Homo sapiens: one gene and its partner. The protein of the gene in region 2 interacts with the protein of the main gene of each other region in a pairwise test. Each region holds a gene or a part of one and is shown on either strand. Other genes may lie near its edges.

Evidence for each region. Proteins that work in one complex are often made in the same cells at the same time.
Region 1: the proteins of DHX32 (region 2) and FAM161A interact in binary tests that used the Homo sapiens proteins (3 or more experiments, as listed by UniProt).

What each region holds. Positions count from the first base shown.
Region 1 is NC_000002.12:61,833,561-61,837,992, forward strand, and holds part of FAM161A (protein FAM161A), read right to left. Parts: exon of another isoform or gene 4,385-4,432; intron 2,550-4,384; coding exon 2,450-2,549; intron 1-2,449. UniProt on the Homo sapiens protein: Involved in ciliogenesis.
Region 2 is NC_000010.11:125,877,338-125,883,166, forward strand, and holds the start of DHX32 (putative pre-mRNA-splicing factor ATP-dependent RNA helicase DHX32), read right to left. Parts: upstream 3,956-5,829; 5' UTR 3,488-3,955; coding exon 3,206-3,487; intron 1-3,205.

The DNA.
Region 1 (4,432 bases), on a different chromosome or scaffold from region 2:
TGAAAGGGTAGGTAAGTGTGCTTCCGAGAGGACGTGTTAAAACAGCTAAATCCTCACCTACCATATCAATAAGCTAGTAGATAGAGTCTGTAATGAAAAAGATAAAAGAACAGTTGAAAGAATGTTACTGAATAATAAAATACCACTTTGTACCCACTAGGAAGACTATAACAAAAAGACAGACAAAAGCTAGGTGCAGTGGCTCATGCCTGTAATCCCATCAACTTGGGAGGTGGAGGTGGGAGGATCACTTGAGGCCAGGAGTTCACGACCAGCCTGGGCCATACAGCGAGACCCAGTCTCTACAAAAAATAAAATTAGCTGGGCATGATGGTGTGGGCCTTTGTCTCAGCTACTTGGGATGCTCATACTGGGGATCATCTGAGCCCAGGAGTTCAAGGTTCCAGTGAGCTATGATTGTACTACTGCACTGGCCTGGGCAACAGAGTGAAACCCTGTCTCTAAAAATATTTTTCTAAAAAAATCAGACAGACAATAACAAGTGCTGATGCTATTCACAACAGCAAAGACATGGTAACAACCCAGCCCATCAGCAGTGGATTGGATACAGAAAATATGTTACACATACACCATGGAATACTACACAGCCATAAAAAAGAATGAAATCATGTCCTTTGCAACAATATGGATACAGCTGGAAGCCATTATCCTAAGCAAACTAAAGCAGAAACGGAAAACCAAACATCATATGTTCTCACTTACAAGTGGGAACTAAACACTGGGTACACATGGAAATAAAGATGAGAACAACAGACACTGGAGAATATAAGAGGGAGAGTGGAGGGAGGAGGGCAAGGGTTGAAAACCTACCTATTGGGTACTATGCTCATTACCTGGGTGATGAGTTCAATCATACCCCAAACCCCAGCTCACACAATATACCCTTTTTTTTTTTTTTGAGATAGAATTTTGGTCTTGTTGCTCAGGCTGGAGTGCAATGACGCAATCTCAGCTCACTACAACCTCCGCCTCCCAAGTTCAAGCAATTCTCCTGCCTCAGCCTCCCAAGTAGTTGGGACTACAGGCACGCAAAACCATGCCCGGCTAATTTTTGTATTTTTAGTAGAGACAAGGTTTCACCATGTTGGCCAGGCTGGTCTCGAACCACTGACCTTAGGTGATCCACCTGCTTCGGCCTCCCAAAATGCTGGCTGGGATTACAGGTGTGAGCCACGGCGCCTGGCATACCCTTGTAACAAACCTGCGCATATACTCCTTGAATTTAAAATAAAAGTTGAAAAAATAAATAAATAAATAAATAAGAAAAACCCAGAAGCAGTGTAAAGAGCAAAAACAAAAAACTTGCAGTTCAGAGCTGGAGATAATGTCTTTGAGCCAAAAGCCAATCACTTTATGATTATAATGTAGAACAGCTTAAAATGATTTTTCCCCCTAAAGTTGAAATAAAGATGTTAAAAAAATCCATCACTTAAAATGAAAGGCATTATATAAAATTATATCTAGATCAGTGAGCAAAAAGATTACGTAACTTTGAGAGACTGTAATGTGCAGATTCACCCACAATACATGTCCACTGTCCTCAATGAGTCACTGGCAAGTACAGTTCTGTAACTATGCTCATCTGTTACAGGTAAATTCTCCAACTGTCTATTGTCCAATTATAACAGCTTCAAATTCACAATTTAGAACCTGTAACCTCCAGTGATTTTGTCAATTGTTAAGCCATGTCACCCATACAGATGCCTCCCCTATGGGACAAAGGAGAAGATGACCTAAAATTGACAAATTTCCCTTAAGGGAAAGGTTGTAAAACCGGGCATAAACTTAGTAAAATCAGGGTCCACTGTCCGTAAGACTAGTTTGTTTTTCGTATAGAAAGGAAGTTCTTTTAGTAATTGCAGAGAAGATTGAATTACAGACTCACTTAAAAAAAAAAACTAGCAGAAATAACTCTGATTCAATTAGCCATTTTGTTTCATTTTTTTAATTCTTCAAAGACCTCCAAGTGATATCATGAAGCCTCATCTTAATATCTAACCAAGTTTGTACTGAAAAAAGACCAGCCATTAGAAAACAGCTTGCAAAATTATTTTACGAACTACTGGATTGGCATGTTATTTATCAAACTTATGTGCTTCATCAAAAAGATTCAATGTTCAGATTATTTTTTTGAGATGAGGTCTTGCTACGTTGCACAGGTTGGACCAAAACTCTTGGGCTCAAGCAATCTGCCCACCTCAGCCTCCCAAGTAGCTGGGACTACAGGTGCACACCACCACACCTGGCTAAATGCTCGGATTTAAGCAAAATTACTCATTGGCTGATATGATGAAGCCAACACAAACAACAATAATGTATCTCAACAGTTATATAACACATAAGAAAAATGGACTGTAAATTTAGGAGCTAAAGCTGTAAAAAAAAAAAAAAAAACTGACGATAGCTCTTAAATTCCAATAAACACAACCTGAGCAACTCTTTCAAATAGCAGTGGCCTCTTTTTTAATTTTTCTTCTCTTTCTTCTAGTTCTCGTTGGTATTCTCTCATCCTTTCCTTTTCGCTCTTTCTAAAATTAAAGAAAAGCAATGGAATTTTAAAAGATCATCTAAGAAATAAGAACTTACATATGTAACATTTAACTTATCAACTTGTACAAAGTCAATGAAAAAAAAGAAATAACATTTAGCTTAGCTGACAAATCAGAAATTATAAGCACAGTTCACAGTTTACCTCGATTCCTCTTCTATACCGGTTAATTCTCATGGAATGCAGAATAAAATCCTAGGTTCTGAGATCACACATATTATGCTCTAGGAATAGTCTGGACACTTTAATTTCTGAAATCCTCAAGGCATAAATATTTTAAGGGACTTCAAACTGCCCTGAAAAGATGAATGAAAGTCCTCTTGTCTCATTTATAAGTGTATAAAACCAAGAAAATTTTGGAACAAATTAGCTATCTTCTCTGTAAGGAATTTCTCCTGAAAACAAGACTTTGCTCTTATTTTTTATTATTATTTTATTGTTGTTGTTATTTACTTTTGTTTTGAGATGGAGTCTCATTCTGTTGCTCAGGCTGGTGCGGTGGCACAATCTCAGCTCACTGCAACTTCTACCTCCTGGGTTCATGCAATTCTCGTGCCTCAGCTTCCCGAATAGCTGAGATTACAGGTGTGCACCACCATGCCTGGCTAATTTTCTGTATTTTTAGTAGAGATGAGGGTTTCACCATGTTGGCCAGGCTGGTCTTGAACTCCTGACCTCAGGTGATCTGCCTGTCTTGGCCTCTCAAAGTGCTGGGATTACAGGCATGAGCCATTGCGCCTGGCCTATTAATTTTGAGACAGGTTCTCACTTTGTTGTCCAGGCTGGAGTGCAGTGGTGCAATCATGGCTGACTGCAGCTTTGACTTCCTGGGCTCAAATGATCCTCCCACCTTAGCTCTCGAGTAGGTGGAACTACAGGGGCATGCCACCACACCTGGCTAATTTTTTTAAATTTTTTGTAGAGATGGGGGTCTCATTATGTTTACCAGGCTGGTCTCAAACTCCTGGGCTCAAGCAATCTTCCTGCCTTGTACTCCTGAGGTGTTGGGATTACAGATGTGAGCCATGGCATCCAGCCTTTGCTGTTATTTTTTTCCCCTAAATAAGATCTCCTACAGGTTAGTGGCAAAGTTAATTCAATGGGAGCAAGTCAAAGGAGAAGTAAAGAGCATGGGAATACAACATAAAGAGAAACAGGAACCAAAATATATAAATTTACCGTAAGTGTTCTCACTGTTTGAGCAAGATCCTATAATAAATTAAACTACACTATTTTCTCTATGTAAGATATAATTGCTACCAAGATAAATAAGATTAATGGATTGGGGAAAATAATTATACTTTTAAATGATAATTAGGCTTAATTATACACAAGTTGGTGTTATGAAAAAGCTATTGTCCAGGCACGGTGGCTCACGCCTGTAATCCCAGCACTTTGGGAGGCCAAGGTAGGCAGATCACCTGAGGTCAGGAGTTTGAGACCAGCTTGGCCAACATGGCAAAACCTCATCTCTACCAAAAATACAAAAATTAGCTAGGCGTGGTGGTGAGCACCTGTAATCCCAGCTACTCTGTAAGCTGAGGCAGGAGAATCGCTTGAACTCGGGATCCAGCCTAGGTGACAGAGCGAGACTCTGTCTCAAAAAAATAAATAAATAAAAAATAAAAAGCTATTAATAGTTTACTTCCTAAGGGTAAGTAATCTATTTCTAAGAAACATTATGCTCACGTTCATCAAATTAAGCTCCCTTTATCAATGGATTAAAGCTAAATTATAAAAGAATACTCATTGTAATTAAAAGCACATATGCATATTTAGAAATCAGATTAAAAAGTAATAAATCACATTACTTACCTGGCTTTGAGGGAGATAGTTTCCTACTTAAACATCAACATTTTTATG
Region 2 (5,829 bases):
TCAGATAAAAAACATCTGTTGTCCAGCCCTCCTCTTTTCAAATTACCTTTAAAGTAAGTTAACTTTAGGGCAGGTACAGTGGCTCATGTTTGTAATCCCAGCACTTTGGGAGGTGAAGGTGGGAGGATCGCTTGAGCCCAGGAGTTCGAGACCAGCCTGGCCAAAATTGTGAAACCCTGACTCTACTAAAAATACAAAAATAAGCCAAGCATGATGGTGCATGCCTGTAATCCCAGCTACTCAAGAGGCTGAGGCACAAGAATTGCTTGAACCGGGAGACGGAGGTCATAGTAAGCCAAGACTGCCCCACTGCATTCCAGCCTGGGTGACAGAACGAGCCTCTCTGTCTCAAAAAATAATAGTGATAATAAAATAGGTAAACTCTAGAGATAATAAACAACTTGAAAGCAACAATTTATAGTAGAAAATATTCTTTTAACTCCAATTCAGAAAGCTACTGACATTAGATAGACAAATTATCAAATCCTTCTGGGCCACAGTTTATTCATCTGAAAAATGAAGGGGTTCCATCAGTTTCTAATTCTATTCTATTAGAGCATAGTCTATTCTACTAGATCTATTCGTAACTTCTCTATGAGAAATGGGACTTCTTATTATTCACACTATATGGTCTATTCTAATTCTTACATCGCGAGAATCTAGAAATGAATTTCATGATAAAAATACTGGTTGCTTGCTTTAAAACTTAAGAGTAAAATATGGATCTCACTTGAACAAAAACTTGAAGTCCAAATACAACAACAAACTGAATAATAAGTATTTATTAACTATCTAATGTTGGGGCTCAGGACATACCTCCCCAGAATATGACTGAAGGAGACCAGAATATGTGACCCCAAAATATGCCTCCTTTGCACATTTTGAGAAAGTGTAGACATAGGAGTAGCTCTGAAAAGTTACCTTTTTAAAGATAAATTTGTGCCTATACAAGAAATCTCTGCTTATAAGGGCATCTCCCTCTCTGCAACAGGAGGAGATGACTAAGTAAAGAAGACATCGACTTACATCTTCATAACAAACTTCACCTTCATTTAAGGTGCTTTTCCTGGCCATCTCATCTTAACAGGGTTGTTCCCCACAACCTTTTTTACTTTGTTTCAGAGAATGATGGTATTTAAGCCCAAAATTTAAATGCTTTCTTTGAGATCTACTCTAGAGACTTGCTCATTTCTCTGGGGTTTTCCCGTGTATACATGAGGCATACATATTAATACACTTCTGTTTTTCTTCTGTTAATTTGTCTTTTGTTACAGGGAGCCTCAGATAAGAGTTATGAAGGACAGAGAAAATTATTACTTTTTCCTTCTCTACACTACCTTGTTTTTCTTGGTGTTTTTTTTTGTTTTGTTTTGTTTTCTTTTTTTTTTTGAGATGGAGTCTTACTCTGTCACCCAGGCTGGAGTGCAGTGACACAATCTCAGCTCACTGCAACCTCCACCTCCTGGGTTCAAGTGATTCTCCTGCCTCAGCCTCCCAAGGAGCTGGGACTACAGGTGTGCATCACCATGCCCAGCTAATTTTTGTATTTTTTAGTAGAGTCAGGGTTTCACCATATTGGACAGGCTGGTCTCGAACTCCTGACTTCATGATCTGCCCGTCTCGGCCTCCCAAAGTGCTGAGATTACAGGCATGAGCCACAGCGCCCAGCCTTTTCTTGTTTTTTTTTTTTTTTTTTTTTTTTTTGAGACGGGGTCTTGCTCTGTTGCCCAGGCTGAAGTACAGTGGCATGAACATGGCTCACTGCAGCCTTGACCTCATGGGCTCAAGTGATCCTTCTGCCTCAGCCTCTTGGGTAGCTGGGACCACAGGCACGCACCACCATGCCCAGCTAATTTTTTAATTTTTTATAAAGTTGGGATCTTGCCATGTTGCCCAGCCTGGTCTCAAACTGCTGGACTCAAGCAATCCTCCTGCCTCAGCCTCCCAAAGTGATGGGATTATAGGTGTGAACCACTGCACCTGGCCCACTATCCCGTTAAACAAACAAACAAACTTTAATTGAGAGGCCATTAGGCTGAGGCAATGACAGAGCTCTAGAAGGTCCCACATAAGCAAACTAAAGTCCAATGTAAACAGTAAAACCATACTAGACTTTATCAATCAGAAACTGCCAACTATTCCCTAACTCGGAACTTTCCACTCTAACCAATTTAAATGTCTTTTGTCTTACTTTCATGTTCAGCCTATAAAAGCTCACTGCCCTTGCTGCTAGAATGGGGCTCACTAACCTCCAATGGTTCTGAGTGCTGCGTAATTCATGAGTCATTCTTTGCTCAAACAAACTCCTTGTTTTTTTTGTTTTTTTTCTGAGACAAGGTCTCTCACTCACATCGCCCAGGCTGGAATGCAGGGGCATCATCACAGCTCACTGCAGCCTCAACTTCCCAGGTTCAGGTGATTCTCTCACCTCAGCCTCCCAAGTAGCTGGGACGACAGGCATGCAGCACCATGCCCGGCTACTTCTTTGTAGAGACGGCATTTTGCCATGTTGCCCAGGCTGGTCTTGAACTCCTGGGCTCAAATGATCTGTCCACCTTGGTCTCCCAAAGTGCTGGGATTCCAGATGTGAGCCACTGTGCCTGCTCCAACTCTTTAATATTTTAATATCCCTAGGTTTATCTCTTAATGATCCTAATTCTTTCCCCCATCTTAGACCCCAAAGTGTGTGGCCCCAGGCCTGGATCATATTTAGTTGCTCAGTTATTTCTTATAGTCAGGAAAATCAGAATTTCCTTGTGCTTTTGATTTCAGTAGCTCAGCCAGCTTCACCAGCAAGCACATCCACATATCTGGATTCTCAGACCACTGGGCACTGAAACAGAGCAGTTAATCCCCATACCCATGCTGAGGAAATAACACGCATCACATCTTTTAAAATATCATATACACAATGGATCATTTGAGTAAATTTAATACTAGGATCATTTGAGTAATTTTAATACTGCTCTATAGACAATTCAGTGGTACCCTAAACACAATTAATTTCTACATAGATATTATTAACTTTTCAGCTAGTATTAGTAAAATTAATAAAATTAGGTACGTGATTTAATTATTTTATCTGAATAATGTTTTGTTTTTTGTTTTAGACACTATTATTAGAACACTAGGCTGTGACATGTCATTAAATAACAATTAAAAAATCAACACATACAGCAAATTATTTTTTGTAGTGGTTACTCACCTGAGCGCTCTTACCACATTTAGCATCTCCTGAAACAATCACGATTTGATTTTGAAGCAGGTTCTCCATAAAGGAGTATTTTTCTTTCCATATAGGAAGATCTTCTCTTTCTTTCAGAAGTTTATAATAACGTGATGAATATGGCAATCCATCAAAGGGGTTAAGTTCCAAATCCTCACAGGCCAAAACCTCTTCCTCATCCCCATCGCTGGAATCCAGGGATTCAGGAAAATAGCGTTTTTCAGAGGAAGAGTTTGGACACTCCAGCCCTTCTTCTTCCATCTTGTCTGACAGTGAGCTCACGCAGCTGACATTCCACAAGCAAGTTTCTCCTATCAGTAACCCATTGCAAACAGGGCTTAAAAGCCTATTTATACAAACCCGTATGTTCCAATCTCTAAGACTTCAGTTCAAGGTTTTAGCAAGTTAAATTCCTCAAACCTGCATCTGTTCTCCGTTGCTGTGTTACCCACTGTGCTGGCTCACTACAGCACTCTTCGGCATTGTAAATGATTGTCAATAAACCACACTAAGAAACAAACAAACAAAAAGAGTAAGGAAAATTAGGAACACATATAAGTTAAAAAGAAAATGCACAGGAGTTCAAATGAAAAGCATTATTTTTTTTTTTTCTGTTAACGGGTTTCTGTCATTTCTGCTGCCTGCTTAAAAGAACAGGAATAATTTAGGCTGGTGTTTAAAGTTTGGTGGGTTCCGGTATTTCCTGGCTGGTTCAGAAAATGATTCTGCACTGGGCCTCGTGCTCTCTGCCTGACCTCTATCTCAGGCTCTGCGTCTTGATCAACTGTGAATGGAAAGCAACAGGAGGGACAGGATTGTGATTGTGAGGCTAATCAATCACGTGGTCACCTAATCCCATGTCAAAAGAGGAGCTGGACCCTATAAAAGGAAAGAACTGTGATGACCTGGTGAGTGTTCCTCTAACACAGGCTACAGGAAAATCTATTATTAAGAAATCCTTTACTTTAATGAAAAACATTTTTAAAACTTTTCATTTTCCTTTTGCTTATGTCAGTTTAGAAAGCCAAGTGAGGGGAATGAATTTATTATTTCCTTCCATATGTAGTTATGGTTGGCTTTTATTTTATATATATATAAAAAAGACAGGGTCTCGCTCTGTCACCCAGGCTGGATGCAGTGGCGTGATCATGGCTCACTGCAGCCTCAACCTCCCAGGCTGTTTTCCCCCTGCCTCAGCCTCCTGAGTAGCTGGGACTACAGGTGTACACCACTATGTCCAGCTAATTTCTGTATTTTTTTGTAGAGACGGAGTTTTGCCTTGTTGCCCAGGCTAGTTTCGAACTCCTGGGCTCAAGTGGTCTGTCCTCCTTGGCCTCCCAAAGTGCTGGGATTTCAAATGTGAGCCACCATGCCCAGCTGGCTGGCTTTTATTAATAAGGTCTTTTGTTTAATTAAACCAGAAATCTCTAGCATATTTCTTGAGATTCCTGGGTCTTGAGCCCAACATGTCAGCTCCAAGAGGCCATTAAGGACAACTTTTAATTTAAATGAAGAAGAGAAATCACCCAAGAAAGAGCAAGATTTATACCAATAACTCAGTCCCCACATGTCAGGTGAAGGGTCTTTCCCCTTCCAATTACTAGTGATTAAAAAGAAAAATTCCATTAGTGTTGCTGGAAATAAGCTCCTTTTCACATTAACCAGATAAAAATGAAAAAGAAAACTCAAGTTAAAAAGAATAATAAAATACAGTTCATGATATTTTGTAAGTTACTGCACTTTTCGGATCACCTGGTTTACCTTAATTATTGCTTTAGATGGTTGGAGCCAGTGTGCTCAACAGCTAGTTCCTAATTAGTAAGTGATAAGAAAAGCTCTCTCTCTATTGGTCAAGACAGGCTCCAGGGCAACAGTCAATCACTCAAAAAACATTTGCTGAGTGTCTTCTAAGGGCTTATTAGATGAGTAAACTAGGCACTAGATACACACATAAAGGATATTTTGAAGATGGCAGCAAGAGCAGGATAGAAAGTTTTAAAATTCACAGATGAACAAGCTAGTTTAGAGGTAAGTAACCAGAGAGGCAGAAGAACTTCATAGCTCTTCCCAAGTAAAGTTCTTAAAAATTCATCTAAAAGCCAGTGTTTCAAAATTAAAATGGAATTACAAAGGCATAATAGAAATGTTGTAATATGGATTCACTTCAGAACTCTTCACTGCCTCTATAAGGTGAGAGTAGACCCACAGAATAGCTCCAGGAAGCATGGTAGCTTGAGATCATCGCACAAGCTAATTCTGGGAAGGTATCCAAGAATCAGAAAATTCCACTCTTCAGAGAAGTTAAAATTTAATTTTATATTCTATTTTTCTTTTGTTCTGATTAGAATCCCTTCCAAGGGTTCTCAGCCTACATGTAAATTAAATTGCTATTAAATATTATAACCAATGATTGCCTTAGGTAGTATTTCTTAACTGTTTTACCTTAAAAAAAGAACAGCTATTATTTTTACCAAAAAGAAATGTTTCTCTTATTTATAATACTCCCTAAGAGTGTAATAATCTTATAATTACAGTAAATTCTTACTTATAAAGCACTGACCACTTTGAACCCTGAGGAAATAATCAAGTTTTCTGAATAGTCT